4 linked regions of the Homo sapiens genome follow. The protein of the gene in region 1 interacts with the protein of each later gene in a biochemical or structural test. Each region holds a gene or a part of one and is shown on either strand. Other genes may lie near its edges.

Region 1 (4,570 bases):
CGTATGGGTGAGGGGGGATGGAGTGAATACATAGGGCCTTCTGGGCATCAGTTGATAAGTCCTGACCTAGTGGGATAGGGACTCTCCTAACCTTTCTAATGTCTAACTGAAGGACTTGGTTGCCTGGACAGCCATGACATGGACTGCTTCATAACAAGTTGAGATTTGAACAGGGACTTGTGAGAAGGGTCAATGATGAAAACTAAGAGGATCAACTAGTGCTCTCCTTCTCCCAGTCTTGATCAGTCACTACACTTTGCAGTCCTGGTCCCTAACTCTTGGGGTTCCAGGGTTATTCATTGTCCTTACTCCTGTGGAGTTGAGTTTCTGAGGACGCAAATACTGAATAAGGCACGAGATGACCAGGCCAGAGAAGGGCAAGCCTAATTTCCATTGGCTGAGCCTAGTAAACAAGCCCAGTTCAAGATGGTGCATGTTCTAGCCTTCTATGGCTATGTAAAAAACTATCCCAGACCCAGTGGGGTGTAGCTTGGGTTCCCTGGGAAGCAGACTCTGAGATGGAGAAGAGTGTGCATGGTGTTTATTAAGAACTATACTTAGGATCAAGATTTGGAGAAGAGGAGAAGGGGGCAGGAATGGGTTTAGTGGCAGCCCCAGTTGGCCAACAGGGAGTTCTGGGGCCAGAATGACCCTTGAGAGTTGCCCCAGGTTGGGCTGTGATGACCTAGTCTTTATATCAGGGATCAGCAAGTTATGGCCTATAGGCCAAACCCAGGTTGCCACCTATTTTTTAACTAAAGTTTTATTGGAACACAGCCACACCCATCATGTACATGTCATCTGTGGCTGCTTTCATGATACATTAGCAGAGCTGAGTAGTTGGGACAGACTGCAAGGCTGGCAAAGCCTAAAATATTTAGGATCTGCCCTTGATGGAAGTTTGGCAGGCCCTGTTATGTTCCCTCATTGATCAGTTGCTGAATGGACAGTCTCTGACCTCTGTGGCCTCGGCTGCGCTGGAGGGTCCCCTTCTAAGGTGCCTTCCTTGCTCGAGGCTCCTTGGCCTTGTTCTCCAAGGACATCTCTTCTTCCTGGGTTTCTCCACGTGGCACAGTGGTTTGGCATCGTCGTACTTCTTGCATCTTACCTGAGGGCTTCAGGAGGTGGGACCTGGAGGCCCCCAGTCCATGAAAAGCCACAGCAGGGCTGGCAAAATCACTTGTGCCATTGGTCAAAGTGATCATGGGGCCTGCCCAGATTCAAGAGATGGAGCCACAGATGCCGCCCACTGCCTGAAGGAGGATGGCACAATCACGGTGCAGAAGAGCATGAGGATGAGATGCTGTCAGACCGTCTTCGGAAAAATGTGGAACACCATGGCAGGCCAGGTGGCTGCTCGGCAGTGCCGTGTCAATCCCAGCTCACCCAGGTCACCGCTGCAGTGCCTGTCCCTCCCCAACTCCACCCACGGTCCCTGACATCACGTGGGGAGGGAGTTTGAGATGGCCATGGTGGGAATGTGACACCTCGGGAATGGGCTCTACCCACCCCAACGCCAAAGAACCTGCTGCACACCCCTGCTGCCATGGGAGGACTTCTGGTTTGAAGCCACATGGGAAGAAAGACAGCAGCATTTATTGAGCACTAAGGGTCGCTACATGTCCTGGAACCTCAGGATGACTCCGTAAGCTATGATGTTACCCTTTATTTTATAGAAGGGGAGTCAGAGGCTCAGCAAGGTTGGAGGCCCTGGCAGGATTTGAACCATGGTCCCCTCGTTTTTGCCATCCTGCCTCACAGAAGACGGAGCTGGCAGGAGAAGGAGATCCTGGGTCTGAAGAAAGCTTAGGTTGGCAGGGAGGGAGAGAAAGCTGGCCAGAGAAGAGCGGGCAAAGCCTGAGGCCAGGGCAGCATGGGGTTGCCAGAAGGCTGGACAGTGGAGTCCCTGGAAAGGACTCAGGGCCAGCAGACTGCGCCAGCTGTGTGGGTGCTGGAAGATTCACCCCAACCAGGCAGCCAAACTCCTGACGTTTCTCATTGTCTGAAAAATGCATCTCTGTACTCTAAGACAACACAAGCAGAATGCGAGTGAGGTGGGCTCGGGAGGCCCTGAAGAGGGCCACGGAGAGAAAGCCGGCGGCTGGGCACCACATTCACAGCAGAAGTTTCAGTTCCTTCCCCTCACCTTCTTCCTGGGAAGCACAGTGGTTAGGCTCAACCAATGGACCAGTTTTAGGAGGAGGAGCGGGCAGGAAGGGGCTTTCATATTGGATCCTGTAGGAAGCAGTGGTATGCTACAGGGGTGACAGTGGCCTTCTTTATAACAACACTCGTTCCCGCAAGCTGGACCTTACCCACGTGCCAGCCTTGCCAGTTACACATGTCTATTACCTTTCATCCTCATAACCTTCAAGGGAAGAGGTCTTATGACTCCTCTTTGGGGAAATGAGGCTCAAGAGAAGGGGTAACCTTCCGGGTTTCAGGGTGAGCGCGTGGCAGAAGTTAAGACTTGGACTGGATGCAGGCACTTGACTTCTCCACATCACGTGGCCACGGTGCCTGAGTCAGCCCAGTGGTGCGGGGCGCCCCAGAGAGCACAGAAGCCAGGGCTGGAGACCCAGGTGTGATGGGAGAGCTTTCTTTGGGTGAGGTTGGTTCACAATCTCCCACTTTTTCCCCCCTATAGTTGAAGGATTTTCTCTCCCCGTTGTTTGTTTTAAGAATAAGATGCAAAAGTGAGAAGCGGGAGGCCTTGCCTTGTTCCGTGGGCAGACAGTGTGGGGGCTGTGAGGCCAAGGACACCTGGGAGGGGAGAGGGTGGGGGCAGACTGCATCTCCCAAGAGCAGGGTGGGGAGTGCAGGGAAGGGTCAGGAGGAGAGCAAGGCCACTGCTGAGGCAGGGTCCATGTAGGACACCTTTCGCTTGGACTCCTGGATGTCCTGGCTGGGCCCAGGCCCTGCTGTGTCCCCTGGAGGATAGGGGAGGCCTGTGGACTGCTCACAGGAGGGTGTGGCTACCTCTGCCAGGCCCCTGGGGATAGGAGAGTCACTCCACCATCCCCGTAAACCAGTGGGAGGCCCTGCAGCAGGAGCGTGGAATTAAGACGTGGGAAAATGGTCTCAGTTTTTCAGGTGCTTGTTAAAGATGCTGAGTTTTCTGGTCACCATTCTTGGAAGCCCTCACACAGCAGATTGAAAGTGAGGCTCAGAATCTTCATTTTTAAAGCATCCTCAAATAATTCTGATACCCATGGACTCTAGACCGTGCTAAGGAAAACACTGACCTGGAGGGTGAAGGCATGTGGGATCTGAAACTTTTAAGAAAACAGCTTTTTTGTCATTCTTATCTGATCTTATGAGCACCAATTTTCTTACTCTGAATGGATGTAGATGTGGAAGGTATAATGTTTGGGGAGCGCTCTTGCCCTAAGAGAGATAATGAATACAGCAGTTTGTGCATAATTGCACTTAATTATTATGTTGTGAATATATGGTTAAACTTGATAAAGATTAACTTATAAAAACTCTTATTAAAACTTCCCTGTTATTTGCCATTCATCGCTATCGTGGAGTTTTTAGGGGAGCTTGTTCGTCCATCCACCTGATAAAGTTTTGAATGCATGCTGTGTGCCTGGCTCTGGCGGGGAGTGGGGCATACAGCAGTAGCCAATAGCTGGGGTGGGAGGTTCTGACCACTCCCCTCCACCCACTTACAGTCTGGACAGAGAAATAAACTAAAAAAATCCGCAACCAACAACATACATTTTGCTTTTTTTGTAAATGTATTCTTTTTTTTTGTTTTTTTGAGACAGTCTCGCTCTGTCACCAGGCTGAAGGGCAGTGGCACAATCTTGGCTCACTGCCACCTCCGTCTCCCAGGTTCAAGTGATTCTCCTGCCTCAGTCTCCCGAGTAGCTGAGACTACAGGCACACGTCACCATGCCCAGTTGTTTTTTGTATTTTTAGTAGAGACGGTGTTTCTCCATGTTGGCCAGGATGGTCTCGATCTCTTGACCTTGTGATCCGCCCGCCTCAGCCTCCCAAAGTGCTGGGATTACAGGTGTGAGCCATTGCGCCCAGGCTACTAAATGTGATTTTTATAAATGTGTTAGTATTTACATACAAACCAATACTAGACAAGAGAGGAAAAAACCCTTATCAGACCATATATTGTGAATTTGAGTTTTAAAGAATTAATTAAACATGCAAGTTATGAACTTTTCAGGTACTCTCTAATTGAAATAAGAAGATATACACTATAAATTCTGTACAAAGCTGGCTTGCAGATTTTTTTCTCGTCATTAGAGTTAAGACATCACCTCTAAGTATGTTTAATTAAAATGTTTTCAAGATACACTGATATTTTCTTCACAGCATTTCATCTCTGCCCCTCCTCTCATTTGTGAACACGGAACCTTAGGAAAATGGTTCCCAAGTGCTTTCAAGCACAAATGTGTCTGAATGCAGAATTGTCAACAACCTGCACAGAGAATTCTGAATCCATGCTTGGCGGTTTCAGCATAGTCTTTATGCTGTTTTCTTGTCTGAAGTTTGAGCGCACCAATAGTCTATGAGAGAAGGAATCAATATGAAACAGAGTTGTTACCAA
Region 2 (4,570 bases), on another chromosome or scaffold:
TGGTTTGTAATTTGAAATCTTAGAACAAATGCTTGAAGGATACAAAAATATGTGTGTGTACATTTGTATCTATGTGTGTGTATACATATATATGTGAATAAATGGCATTTGAAAGGTAACTTCCTTTTTTTTTTTTTTTTTTTGAGATGGAGTCTCACCCTGTCACCCAGGCTGGAGTACAGTGGTGTGATCTCAGCTCACTGTAACCTCCATCTCCTAGGTTCAAGTGATTCTCCTGCCTCAGCCTCCCTAGTAGCTGGGATTACAGGTGTGTGCCACTACACCTGGCTAATTTTTTTTTTGTATTTTTAGTAGAGACGGGATTTCACCATGTTGGCCAGGCTGGTTCTGAACTCCTGACTTCAAATGACCCACCCACCTCAGGCTCCCAAAGTGTTGGGATTACGGTGTGAGCTCCTGCGCCTGGCTATAAGGTAACTTCAATTTAGCAGTTCTGTAGCATCAGCTTACCCGTTAAGCACAGGACAACGTAAAGGGGAAGGACCCTCCATTGTATTTTGAATACCAATCTTTTTTTTTTTTCCTGGAGACGGAGTCTTGCTGTGTCGCCCAGGCTGGAGTGTAGTGGCGCAATCTTGCCTCACTGCAACCTCTGCCTCCTGGGTTCCAGCGATTCTCCTGCCTCAGCCTCCCAAGTAGCTGGGATTACAGGTGCCTGCCACCATGCTGGCTAATTTTTGTATTTTTAGTAGAGATGGGGTTTCACCACGTTAGCCAAGCTGGTCTTGAACTCCTGACCTCAGGCAATCTGCCCACCTCGGCCTCCCAAAGTGCTGGGATTACAGGTGTGAGCCATCACACCCAGCTGAATATCAAAATTTTCATGCTTACTGAGCACGTCACCTTCTTGTGATCTCTCCCTTTTCCTTATCTACTATTCTACTTCTTTAGGAAAACAGTACATCGTAAGGATTAAAGATTAAGTAGAAGATCTACTGTATGACTCCTTCATATGAAATTTCCAAAATAGGCAGATACATAAAGACAGGAAGTAGCTAAGTGGTTGCCAGGGGATGAGAGCAGGGGAAGTTGGGAGTGACTACACAGGTATGAAGTTTCTTTTCAGGGTGATGGAAAGGTTCTGGAATTAAACAGTGGTAATGGTTGTACAACCTTGTGAATATGCTAAGTATCACAAGATTGTATACTTTAAAATGGTGATTTTATATTATGTGAGTTATATCTCAGTAAAAAATCACAAAAAAAACCCTCGTTAATGAACACAGCTGATATTTCTCTCCAGTCTTCTTCTTTCTTCCCTCAAAAGCCAAAATAAGCTCTTCAGTCTTCTTCCTTCTTCCCTCAACAACCAAGATAAAATAAGAGTTATATTAAAACTAATAAAATACTACTTCTTTAACAACACAAAGATTAAGTAGAAGAGCCAGGGAAACTCTCAATGATACTCACTGGTAACATCACAAAAAAAGTGAGTGGGGTGGGAACCAGGACTAAGAAAGCAAAGTCAGGATTAGACCATGGTAAGAACTGCAAATCCAGCGAGGGTAGGGTTCATGTGAAAAGAGAACAGCTAGGGGACCAGGGCTCAGATACAAGGGTCTGGTGACATTTCCTAATTCCAGTACTCAGTGACCATCTGCTGGATGATGGAATGAATGAATGAATGAATGATGCAGAACACATACTGTATAGTTGGTTGAGCTGCTTTGTTTGGACACAGCTGCCTGGTACTTGGCCATTCGATCCTTTATAGAGGTTTCTGAGAGGCGTGGAAGTTCCAGATTTCGTCTACTCTCATTTTTCTCCGAGTCAAATGTAGAAGATGACAACTGACCTGGAAGCATCCAAATAACATGTTTTATTTTATTTCTGAGATGGGGTCTCACTCTATCACCCAGGCTGAAGTGCAGTGGCACGATCATAGCTCACTACAGCCTCGAACTCCTGAGCTCAAGATATCCTCCCGCCTCAGCCTCCCAAAGCGCTGGAATTATAGGTGTAAACCACCGTGACTGGCCAACATGTTTTATTAGAAGATAAAAGTGATTCAAATAATTTCAAAATTCTAAATTTTGGGTTATTTTTATCTAATGGCCAATATCTTCTGTTAAAAGCACGAAGAAGAAAATCAGGAATATAATTGTCATTTATAAAGTAATATTCACTCACTTTCTTAGCATTAAAAGAACCTTACCATAATTGAGGATTGCATATTTTATTTTTTGAGACAGGGTCTCACTCTGTCACCCAGGCTAGAGTATGGGGCAGTGGTACAATCATAGCTCACTGCAGCTTTGAAGTCTTGGGCTCAAATGATCCAACCACCTCAGTTTCCCAAGTAGCAGTGACTTCAAGGATGCACCACCACGCTGGGCTTTTTTTTTTTTTTTCTGTAGAGATAGGTCTATGTTGCCCAGGCTGGTCTCAAACTCCTGGATTTAAGTGGTCCTCCTGTCTCAGCCTCCCTAAGTGCTGAGATTATAGGTCTGAGCCACCATGCCTGGGCTCGTATTTTAAAATTCTGGCTAATTTAACATGAAAAAGAAGAGATCTCAATGCTTTTTAATTTACATTTCTTTGATGACTAGGTAGCTGATGTTTTCCTGTTTTTACTAATTTTTTCTTTTGTGAAGTGCCTGTATATGTCCCCTTTAAAACATAATTCCACTCTCAAAGTGTTATGTTATCACTGGTAATACAGGGTAACCAAACCTGATAGGGGACACAGCCCATCTACTGAAGCCCTCAAACCCCAGATGACTGGAGGCAAAACTGATCGTAGCACTTTACTTATAGCTCCTCAAAGTACCCTTTGCTTACCATAGGTTACCACTAACAAGGGTGGATTAAAAATATGAAAAAAGCAGCCGGGCATGACGGCTCATGCCTGTAATCCCAGCACTTTGGGAGCACGTCAACTTCCGTCTCAAAAAAAAAAAAAAAAAAAAAGCTATTTATCGAGAGCAATGAGATTTGAGAATGGCTTGCATCTAATAGGCAGACTTCCTTTTAATTTGTGCCACTCTTCCTTTAAAAGCATTGGCTTCGAGTCCAAAAGATGTTACTACTAGTGAGTACTTCCTAAAGGACCTCATACACATGGAACTCTCTGCTTACCTGGGCCTATTTCCAGGTCATCTAGAGAATAGCTGTTTTCAGAGATCTTCCTTCCACTTGCACTTCGGCTTTGGGCCCGGAGAATCTGGAAAACGAAACCCAACGATAAGTTTTGCAGAAACAATGGGAAATCTTGACGCAAGGTTCAACTTGCAAACCTTCTTTATAAATAAAATCCAGATTTGATTTTATATTTTATATTCTATAGAATTTTTTTTAAATTACAAATATCAAGCACTACACATTCACAGGTGCCCAGGGAAAAATAAGTAACCCTATATAGGTAATATTCTCTGCTAAAGATGGCTTCCTAACCAGCAAGCTTTGTAACACTTATTGGAGGGGAATCCTCACATACCAGATGACAATGACATGTCCTTCTAAACTGCCAAGTGCTGATGCAGAATCTGCTGTTTCCTTTCTCCGTCTCATGTTATTTCTGCTATTGCTGCCTTAGTTCATGTCTTCATCATCTTTCCCCTGGACTACTGCATTATACCTCTTTAACTGGTTCTTCATTATCTTCCAATCCAGTCTCTATGATGCTACCATTATCCCCAATAATACAAAGTAATTATCCAAAAATATAAATCTATTTTACCCTCCTTTTCAAAATTCTTTCAGCATTCCTACTCATTCCTGAAATTAAACTCGAAGTGCTTAGTAAGTCACAGAAGTCCTGTTCTAGATCTGGTCCCTACCGAGCCAGCCTCCTTTGTCCTTCTGTTGCCTTACAAATGCCTGTTCCTTCAAAGACTCAGTGTAAGCACTATGAAGTCTGAGTACCTTGCCAACATAAATTTAGGTAATCTTTCCTCTGTTCTCAAGGTACCTGGTCAAACTGTTGGGTGACTGTCCCTCTACTGCACTGTAAGCTCACTAAGGGCAGAGACCATGCCTTTTTGTCCATATATTTCCAGGACTTACAGAAAAGTGGATGACACAGATTTTTTTTTTTTGAGACAGAGTCTCACTCCGTCACCCAGGCTGGAGTATAGTGATGTGATCTTGGCTCACTGCAGCCTCCGCCTCCCAGGTTCAAGTGATTCTCCTGCCTCAGCCTCCTGAGTAGCTGGGATTACAGGCGCCTGCCACCATGCTCAGCTAATTTTTATATTTTTAGTAGAGACAGGGTTTCACCATGTTGGCCAGGCTGGTCTCGAACTCCTGACCTCAGGTGATCCGCCCACCTCGGCCTCCCAAAGTGCTGTGATTACAAGCTTGAGCCACTGCGCCTGGCCAACAAAGATTTTTTTTAATGAAGTGTTTTGTGATTCCATTAAATTACTACATTTATCTCTGTCATATCTAAGGTAGATCTTTAATGAAAGTTACAAATTATAATTTTTAAGACTGTAGTGTCAAAGAATATTCCCAGACATAGTACACAGGGAGTATGTCATGTTTATTCAGCTTATAATGAGATCCTTACATCAGATCCTATCATTCAAATCTCAGTTTATTTCCAGAC
Region 3 (4,570 bases), on another chromosome or scaffold:
CTCACGCCTGTAATCCCAGCACTTTGGGAGGCTGAGGTGGGCGGATCACAAGATCAAGTGCTCGAGACCAGCCTGACCAACATGGTGAAACCCCGTCTCTACCAAAACCACAAAAATTAGCTGGGCGTGGTGGTGCATTCCTGTAATCCCAGCTACTCAGGAGGCTGAAGCAGGAGAATCGCTTGAACCTGGGAGGCGGAGGTTGTAGTGAGCTGAGATTGCGCCACTGCACTCCAGCCTGGGCGACAGAGTGAGACTTTGTCTCAAAAAAAAAAAAAAAAAAAAAAAAAAAAAGGCTTCAGAACCTGGGCCACGGCAGCTCTGTGCCGGCTGCGCCCTGGGAGACCCTCTCTGTATTGAACAGTGATACCCCTGATAGAAAACAGGGACATAGGAAGGAGATAGGAAGAGGGGGAAATCCAGTTTTTGTATTTTGTCTCAAATAATACTGTTTGGGTGATGTTTCTGTCATAGGTTGCTTTAGGTTAATAATAATAATAATAATAATGGCTTGGTCATCTTTCCCGTGGCAGTCAACATAAATTTCTTTTAAATGTTTCTCTAAAAAAGCTTTCAGGTTCATCAGTAATCCTGTGATATAACACAGCACAATTATTTGCTAACTATAATCACACATTAAAATGATAGTTCACATTTGTCTTCTACACTGAAGACATTTTATTGGTTACATTCAATAGTGGATATTAGCCGGGTGCGGTGGCTCATGCCTGTAATCCCAGCACTTTGGGAGGCCGAGGCGGGCAGATCACGAGGTCAGGAGATCGAGACCATCCTGGCTGACAAGGTGAAACCCCGTCTCTACTAAAAATACAAAAAATTAGGCGGGCGCCTGTAGTCCCAGCTACTCGGGAGGCTGAGGCAGGAGAATCGCTTGAACCTGGGAGGCGGAGCTTGCAGTGAGCCGAGATCACGCCACTGCACTCCAGCCTCGGCGACAGAGCAAGACTCCGTCTCAAAAAAAAAAAAAAAAAATAGTGGATATTAAACAGATATCTTTTGAACTCTGAAGGCTAAGGGAAACCATCTCATCCAGAGAATTAAGCAGTTCTCTCAGACTGAAATGACTCCCCACGTATTTTCTTGTCATCTGCTGCTGAGTCAAACTTATGTATGTCCTTTGTTGGAGGTACCTAAAAGTTAGTGTTCTATTTATGTCATATAAACAAATGGAATCATCACTGATACTGTACACCCTTCTCCTAGCTACATTAAAGCTAAAAACTGTTATTTTTTTGGTCCTTCTGTGAGGAGTCATCTTGTGAAGGAATTTTCTTTTTAGGCGGAGTCTTTTATTTAGGGTGTTACACAAAGTACATTTGAAAATCTTATAAGCAGTAAAGTCTAAGGAAATTGGACTGCTGAGGTGCAGGAAACTGGGAGTTACTAGATTATTTGCTATTTATCTAATTGAGGAAAGAGAGATACTGGTGGGAAGAGAGAAAAAAGTTTTACTGACTTATCATTCACTTTGTTAAAATATATATTACGCACTTTAAATTTTGAATTCATAAATATTCAAATGGAACTTAAAGCTTCTGGGATTTTTGTTTTCTCAAAACAAAATGTATCCATAGATACAGATACATCGATCTATTTAGAGACAGGGTCTTGCTCTGCTGTCGAGACTGGAGTGCAGTGGCACCGCCACAGCTCACTGAAATATCAAGCTCTTGGATTCAAGGGATCCTCCTTCCTCAGCTTCCCTATTAGCTATGACTACAGGTCCAAGCCACCATGCCCAGCTAATTTATTTTTATTTTTAGTAGAGACAAGGTCTTATTATGTCGTCCACACTGTCAAACATATATAGTTTAAACTATGAATGTATCTTACCAGTTTATTGGATTCACCTATGATACCAGGACTTTTCCATTCAATTCAATTCAACAAACTTTTAGAGATCGCCTATATGCCAAGTAGTGTGCCAGGTTCTGGGACAGGAGGGAATCCCATCGACTGAACCTGGAGGCTGCCTCGCTGGGCCCTTCCTGAGATTCAGGCTTCCAGAGGCATCATTCACTACTGGGGACTTGTTGCAGTGGACGTCGGGGGAGCAGGACTGGGAAAGCCGTCTCACCTCAGCTCTTACTATTCTGTCCACGATGGTCTCCAGTATTTCCAGCTTATTGCACTTCACAACACCTTCAAAATACTGTGAACGGTGCTGAAGGGCCTGGGTCACCGTGATATCTAGGTTATTGTATGTTTTCTCAGCAGCAAGATTCTGTAATGAAGCAAGAGAATAAATTATATCCTTTCATTTCAGTTCACTTCAATGACCAAAATTAGTGAGCTTAAGAGAGCCTGATTTCTAAAAACTTTAATGCTTATCTGAATTTAGTACCTGCATACATCAGACGTTCTTTCTGGCTTACGACATGCCATTGCTACTGTTATTTTGTCAACATATCAATCACAATTAAAGATAACCATGTTACAAGGTCTACCTTCCTTACGAAGCAACATTGTTAAACTTTGACAGTATATCCTGCCAAAGACTGCCCCCCAATTTTTACCCTCTAATGCTCTCTACCATGCATGGATGAAATCTCTGGCAAGGTGGGCTGACATCTGTAAAGGGTGGTGAGTGCCACAGGGCTAGAAATGCTGCAGCAACGGACCTTCTCAACAAGCTCCCTGGGGAACAAGGTTTCTGCTGGGAAGGCTTTGGGGGACCCATGGGGATCAAGCAACCAGAGGAAGAACAGGCTTGAGGAGCCCCATGGATCCAAATGGCTTCATGGGGCTCTCATTCATTTTAGCGGGTCCCACTCAACCAAAATGCCGATCAGCATATTTCTCGGTGACTGTTATGTTTAACATAATAGTGTGAAGCAAAGGGTTTGAGGCAGCTGCAGAAGAATGTTTAATGTGGGGTCAGTATTGTGGCAAAAAATGGCGTGCACATTTGGGGCTATAAAGTGTCAGTCCCCTTTTCTTCTTTAGAACAGTGGCTCCCAATCACTAAGCAATGGGATGCGCCCGACAAAGGAGCCATGAGTCCACGTGTGCACTGCGCACGCGTCTAGAGGCGAATAAATCAGGCCTCCTACGTGGAAACAAGAACATTTAAAATATATACACATGCTGTGGCAGTGCATAAAATATGCATGTATTGTAAAGATGAAAAATTATAAAATGCTACTAATATATAATTGGTTGCTAAACCAATGCAGATTAAAAGTACAATTACTATAGAAGGTCTATAAAATTCTGATAATATCCTCACACCCCAAAAGGTTAGAAATTATTAAATTAAGAAACAAGATAAAAACATAAAAACACATTACATGAATGTTTAAAATGCATTCTAGGTGACAGATTGAACAAAATTAAAATACTTACAATTACATCAAATTTGGAATAAATATCTACAACTTTTCCTAAAAATGAAAAATATATGTTAGAAAAATGTCTTAAGGGACAAAAAGAAATTCATTTAAAATCAGTTTTAATGACATAATTACTAAAAGTTAAACACTGATAAATAACCTTGTCTATTTTAAATGAAAACTTAGATATGAAATCATATTTTAATGGACATATGAAAATAAACCAATTAAACTTTTTTTACGATCCTGCGTGCCCCTTGGTGCTGAATTTATTCACCATACCCAAGTTTTCATTTTCCCCACGTATCTCCTGTGCCAGGTCATCTTACAATAATTGCACCCTGAGATAAACAATTATTTCTGCCTGTCAGCGCCAAACACACAAACCTGACTCATCCACAACAGGCAGAGCTGATATTCGTCTTTCCACAAATATGTTCAAGGCTTTGATGATGGGAGTGTCTGGATGTATGAAGGCAATGTTGTGGTACGTTCCTATTCCAAGCTCATCCAGGTTCTGCTTCATGAAGGCAGGCTTTGGCATATCAGACATCTAAACGGAAGATAAACGCAAACGTTCTAGACCCAGAACACACTCTTGTCATGTTCAAAGGTCCAGATTTGAATGAAAAAGTATGTCCAACAAATTAAAGTTAGTTTTTTCTAACAGTCTACCTGGATGCCTGAATTAACATGAGAAAATTACAAAGGACTGTATCTTTTGTTTGAACCAGTTTGTAGGTCTATGCTTCTATTTAACTATTCACAAACTATTGCAGAGCATTGATACTGTAATCTTTTTCCATCTCCTCTTCACTCACTAAGAACGCGTATAGAACCAGGGAAGAACAGGTCTATTTGGGATATTAAGACCTGTAAGCCACGAAGAATTGAATCCTTTATTCTTAATTGTTCATGTTAAATTCCTGGTCCTGCTGTCAGGATTAAGTAATATTTATTAAGAACCTATACATTTCCAAACCCAAAGCATTTGACGGCAGCTGTCTGAGCCACTGCTAAGCTAGTCCTCACGCCACCCGCCTCTACATCCTGAATTCTCCTTGGAGAGCTCCAATTTTTGTCTACTAGGAACAAAGAAGCCAGCTGAACAGAATTAAAAGAATCTTTAAAAATTAACTTTTCATGGGCTGTTTTAAAGGAGGAGGGATATGGCAGGAGAGAAAAGTCTAGGATCATGTTTGAGTATAACAAAATAA
Region 4 (5,164 bases), on another chromosome or scaffold:
CTGTGCAAGCTCATCCCCGGGTCACCAAGGTTGCTGTCCACCTTCAGAAGGTGAGTGTCTTGAGGGGCACCCCCGGAGACAGCAGCCCATCCAGGCCCGCGCCAGGCCAGGCTCAGTGTGCGGGGAACACGGGCAGGGGAGCAGCTCTGCTGACAGCCTGGTGGCCCCTTCCTCACCCTCTAGGGAGACTGGATGCTGAGTATCCCCAAAGGAGGCCCTGCCGGCCTCTGTGACACTAGGAATATGTCAGAGATGCCGACATTACTCTCTCCACAGGGACAAAACCCTGGAGCCAGGAAAGCAGTTTCTGTTGTAGAGGCCTGGGCTTGGGGTGGTGGCACTCAGAGCCAGTGGGGACAGGCCAGTCAGGAGGGCCACTGCCCCCATGAGGCCGACGGTGCACGGTGTCTGGACACAGGAAGAGCCTCAGCTATGTCCTCTGCGCAAAGGCCCAGCTGAGGCCCATGACACCCCCGCGAGCCCAGGGCTCACCTGGCAGCCGGCCTTCTCCAGCATCTGGGCGTACCTCACGGTCTTGTCAATCTCCGGGAAGACACGGATTTTGCACGTGACAGGAACAGAGAGTTTCTCGTGGGCCAGCAAAACTGGGGAGAAGAGAGGCAGCTTCTGAGGGGGCCATGGTGTTCCCACTTTAGCGGCCAAGCCCCAGAGCCCAGGGCCCTGCAGACAGCGGAGCCCAGGCAGCTTTGCCGGGAGGCTGGGAGGCAGCCCGGGCCACCATCTGGGTGTCTCCCTCAGGTTGCTGGGCAGGCTCCCTCCGCCATACCCCCGGCCCTCCGAAGTTCAAACAAGCAGGGCCAAGGCCGGCTCTGTCTCCCAGGACATCTGGGGCTGGGCCCGAGCAAGGACTCTGCCCTGGCACCTACTGTCTGGTTTTAAGGGGTGGGTGGTGCAGGACAGGCAACTTCACAGCCACCTCCTTCCAGCAGAGAGGCTGCTGTGGGCAGGAAGCCCCAGGGTGATGCTGAGAACTCCTGCCAACGCCTGTCCTCTCCTGAGCCCCAACCAAGTGGACAGTGCCCATGTGTCCCTCTTGAGGGTCTCTGGGGGTCCTTCACCATCCACCCAGCCAACTCACTCATTCTTTGGAGCAGGTCCCACTCGTCCTGCAGAAAGGCGCCATAGTGACCTGCAAGGAGCAAGCATGGCCTGGCTGGCACCTGTGTTAAGGCTGGTGGGGCCGAAGCCTTGCACCCCCTCTGCACCCTTTCCTGCATCCACGCAGGCCAGGAGCTGCCCTGTCAGGCGGGACACAGGTCCCCAGAACCAGCAGTGTCTCCAGTTGGGGCAGTGGGACAGTCAGAGCAGTGGTTTGTCGGCATCAGACTCAGGGGCTCTATTTGCCCAGCTGCCTAAGCTCAGAAGGTGCTGAATGGAACCCCCACCCTGCACGGTCTGGAACCAAGTAACACCTCCTCAGGGGCCCGGTGAGGTAGCAGGCTCAGCCCCACACACAGCAGTGCAAGGGGGTAATGGGGACCCTGTATCAGCAATCATGTTTATGCAGAGGGAGCTCCCTGAGGGAAGAGAGAGCCAGTAGGGCTCGGCCCCTAGCCCCCAAGGCCTGAGGACAGCCACCCTCCAGAGGCGGAGCACAGAGGACAGCTGGCTCCAGCCTGAGCCACTGTCACGACAGAGGCAGGGCCTGCCGTCCTCCAAGCTCACCACACCTGGGGCTGCACTGAGCTGGCTCTGGCCCCTGCCCCAGGTGCCCCCATGCTCCACATGGAGCTCACCTCTCTTGGCTATCATCTGTGGGCAGCCCAAGTTCAGGTCAATGGCGTCACAGTAATCCTGAGCCAGGAGAGCCGCCTGAACAAACACCTCCGGGTCATTGGCACAGAACTGGAGAAGATGCAGGAGTCAGCCACGGGCCCAGCCAGGCCCTAGTCCCTTGCTGCCCAGCCCTACGAGAGGTCCAGTGTGACCCCATGAGGGTGTGGGCCCAGGTTCACTGCAGGAGGGTGCTCTGTCCTGCGGAGGCTTACAATATGACAAAGCCGGGAGGAGTCCCCAAGCCACCCGGATTTACAGATTTTCTTCTGAACTGTGGCAGAAGCCACAATCACTGACTTCTGAAGAGCAGAGCCATCTCCACTGGTTCTGAAGAGGGAGTGTGAGTGTGAGAGGCAGCAATCCAGAGGCCCCAGCAGGGCTGCAAACCTCACAGCACCCAGGCTGCCTGAGCCACTCCTAGAGAATGGGGTTGGATTCTGGCAGGTGCACCTGGCAGCCCTGGCTCCACCACAGGAATCACTGCTGTGGCTACGTGGACTCTACATGCCTGGTGCCACCTTCTCCCTCTCCTCCTGGAATTGAGCTGTCTCTGGAAAGGCTGAAAGTGATGTCCCGCCACAGAGAGAAGGGTTTTTCCCCAGGCATTCCAGGACCGGGAACCCAACCGCGGCCGCGGCCACAGCCCCTCCTGCGCACCTGCACGATGAGGGGCCGGTCCTCGGGGCACACCTCGCAGTACAGGTTCTCCTTCCGGTAGTTGGCGTCGCGGACAAAGACCTGGGCATGCAGCATGGGCGTGTAGCAGAGCTGTGCCCCGTGGCGCCGGCTCAGCAGCCTCCAGGCCAGCTCGCTCTGGTCCACCATGGGGGCCACGACGTGGCGGGCCCCTCGCAGGGTGCGGCTCCAGAACTCGAAGCCCTGCAGCTTTGGCATCGTCTCCAGGCTGGGGGAAAGGCGCAGACCCGGGGTTCAGCCAGGCCCAACGAGGGGCTTAAGACTCAACTCAGAGGCAGCGGTCACCCTTCTAAGGCCGCTCCAGTACCACCGTTGGGTCACACGCGGGGGCACTAAAGGCGGGGGTCGGTGCAGGCTGGAGAACGGCCACTCCAGTGCCGCCACCTCCTAGCGGACCTCGGGGGAGCCGCTGGACCCCTGGGACTTGACCCTCCCTGGGGAGCGGGACTCGATGTCGGCCTGGTAGGGGACTGGCGTGAAGGGGGAAGAAACCTTGACGCCAGCGTCCCCGCGGGCCTGGCCCTGAGCAGGCCGCCCGGCGGTGAAGTTAGGACCCCCGGCCCCTTCCCGGGAGAATCGGCTCCGCGCCGGGCCAGGGGAAGGGCAGAGCTTCCTTCTCCGCACCCGGCCAGGCGGCCCGGCTGGCCCGAAACGCCACAGGGGCGCCCCTCGCGAGACTCCTCCGGAGCCACGCGGCGGGCAGCGTTTGCTGTGTGAAGTGACAGGAGCCCACACGCCTCCGCGTCCTCACCGCGCGAGGGCCCCGCCGTGTCCGCCGCGCGCCTTTGGCTCCGAGGGCGCCGGGTGCCGGTGTCCCGGGCCCGCCCCTCTCCGGCCTCGCCGCCGCCCGGGGCCCCTGCAGCTCCCGGGGCGCCGCGAACGCCCGCACCGCGCCGGGGCCGCCGCCGGGCCGCAGCCGGGCCCAAGGCTCCGCGCCGCCACCGGAAGGTGCCCGGTCCTGCGCGGTCCGGGCGGCCCACGGTGCGGCGGGAAACGCGTTCCCCGGAAACCGCGCCCGGCTCCGAGGGGACCGGCGACGAGAGGTCGCGGCGCGGGGTCGGAGGTCAGAGGCTGAGGTCACCACCGTACCCGTCAGGCCGTGGCTAGAGAGGGGTCGGGGCTCGCCGGGACTCACCGACAGCTCGCTGGAAACGAGGCATGTGGAAATTGGGCCTCGCTGAGGCGCACATAAGGCCCGGGCCGCGGGTAGACCGTGGGCGCTGAGGCCCTGCGCTGCCCAGCCCCCAAGTTCGCATTGGGGGCTTCATCCCGTTATATCCTAAAGCGGCCCCAGAGCCCTGCCTCGAACCCACTCACCTGCCGCCTCTGAAAGCCACTCACTTTCCGCCGCTGCGTTGCGGAAAATCACCCTCCAGGGACCTTCCTTGCCCGCCCTGGGTTTCCGCAGCCGCCAGCCTTCGATCGACTTTCCTACCCGCCGTGGACCCTCCTTGGGTTATTTCGAGCTGTGGGGACCCACTGGGAACCCCAGAGTGGATGTGAAGGTTATTTTAAACTGAAGGCATTTGAGACCCAACAGATGTAAAAAGCAGCTTTGTCAGAGCTTTCCATATCTGAGAGCGAAGCCCGAAGTTGAACCAGGACATTCAGTACCTAAAACATGTGAAATCTCTTGGGCCCCCGGAATCACTAAGGAAAACTCAGGCTGGAAGCTGCTCAGGGCAAACCTGCCTCCCGCTCTATTCAGAGTCACCCTCTGCTCGCTGAGATAGATGGATATCTGACTGACTCCTTTGAAAAGGCTCATCAGAAGGCTGGGCGCGGTGGCGCACATTGAGACCAGGAGTTCGAGACCAGCCTGGCCAACACGGTGAAACCCTGTCTCTACTGAAAATACAAAATTAGCCAGGTGTGGTGGTGCGCCCCTGTAGTCCCAGCTACTCGGGAGGCTGAGGCAGGAGAATCGCTTGAACCTGGGAGGCGGAGGTTGCAGTGAGCCGAGATCAAGCCATTGTACTCCAGCCTGGCGACAGAGCAAGACTGATCAAAAAGGAAAAGAAAAAAAAAAAAGGCTAATCAGAAACTCAAAACAATGTAACCGTTTGTGTATCACCTATCTGTGACCAGGAAGCTCCCTCCCCGATGGCTTTTGCTTTAAATTGTCCCGCCTTTCCAGACTGAACCAATTTTTTTTTTTGAGACGGAGTCGCTTTCTGACCCAGGCTGGAGTGCGGTGGCGTGATCTCGGCTCACTGCAACCTCCATCTCCCAGGTTCAAGCGATTCTCCTCCCTCAGCTTCCCAAATAACTGGGATTACAGGCACCCACCAACACACCCAGCTAATTTTAGTATTTTTAGTAGAGATGGGGGTTTCACCATGTTGGCCAGGCTGGTCTCGAACTCCTGACATCAGGTGATCCGCTGGCCTCCCAAAGTGCTGGGATTACAGGCGTGAGCCACCGCAGCTAGCCGCTATGTTCATCTTACATATATTGATTGATGTCTCATGTCTCCCTAAAATGTATAAAACCAAGCTGTGCCCCAACCACCTCAGGCACATGTTGTCAGGACCTCCTGAGGCTGTGCCATGGGCATGTCCTCAACCTTGGCAAAATAAACCTTCTAAATTAACTGAGACCTGTCTCAGATTTTCTGCATTCACAGATAGAACAGCCTTGGTGGTCTTCAGAGGTGGCCAGATGTCCCTGG

The links.
Region 2: the proteins of DAPK1 (region 1) and LIMA1 form a complex in vitro, tested with the Homo sapiens proteins (one large-scale study listed by BioGRID and IntAct).
Region 3: the proteins of DAPK1 (region 1) and PRKAG2 form a complex in vitro, tested with the Homo sapiens proteins (one large-scale study listed by BioGRID and IntAct).
Region 4: the proteins of DAPK1 (region 1) and DUS1L form a complex in vitro, tested with the Homo sapiens proteins (one large-scale study listed by BioGRID and IntAct).

The regions. Positions count from the first base shown.
Region 1 is NC_000009.12:87,633,349-87,637,918, forward strand, and holds part of DAPK1 (death-associated protein kinase 1), read left to right. Parts: intron 1-4,570. UniProt on the Homo sapiens protein: Calcium/calmodulin-dependent serine/threonine kinase involved in multiple cellular signaling pathways that trigger cell survival, apoptosis, and autophagy.
Region 2 is NC_000012.12:50,202,885-50,207,454, forward strand, and holds part of LIMA1 (LIM domain and actin-binding protein 1), read right to left. Parts: intron 3,185-4,570; coding exon 3,100-3,184; intron 1,817-3,099; coding exon 1,668-1,816; intron 1-1,667. UniProt on the Homo sapiens protein: Actin-binding protein involved in actin cytoskeleton regulation and dynamics. Increases the number and size of actin stress fibers and inhibits membrane ruffling. Inhibits actin filament depolymerization.
Region 3 is NC_000007.14:151,561,980-151,566,549, forward strand, and holds part of PRKAG2 (5'-AMP-activated protein kinase subunit gamma-2), read right to left. Parts: intron 3,907-4,570; coding exon 3,741-3,906; intron 3,405-3,740; coding exon 3,367-3,404; intron 2,246-3,366; coding exon 2,099-2,245; intron 1-2,098. UniProt on the Homo sapiens protein: AMP/ATP-binding subunit of AMP-activated protein kinase (AMPK), an energy sensor protein kinase that plays a key role in regulating cellular energy metabolism.
Region 4 is NC_000017.11:82,062,369-82,067,532, forward strand, and holds the start of DUS1L (tRNA-dihydrouridine(16/17) synthase [NAD(P)(+)]-like), read right to left. Parts: upstream 3,437-5,164; 5' UTR 3,245-3,436; intron 3,147-3,244; exon of another isoform or gene 2,986-3,146; intron 2,702-2,985; 5' UTR 2,692-2,701; coding exon 2,455-2,691; intron 1,867-2,454; coding exon 1,758-1,866; intron 1,151-1,757; coding exon 1,100-1,150; intron 606-1,099; coding exon 493-605; intron 1-492.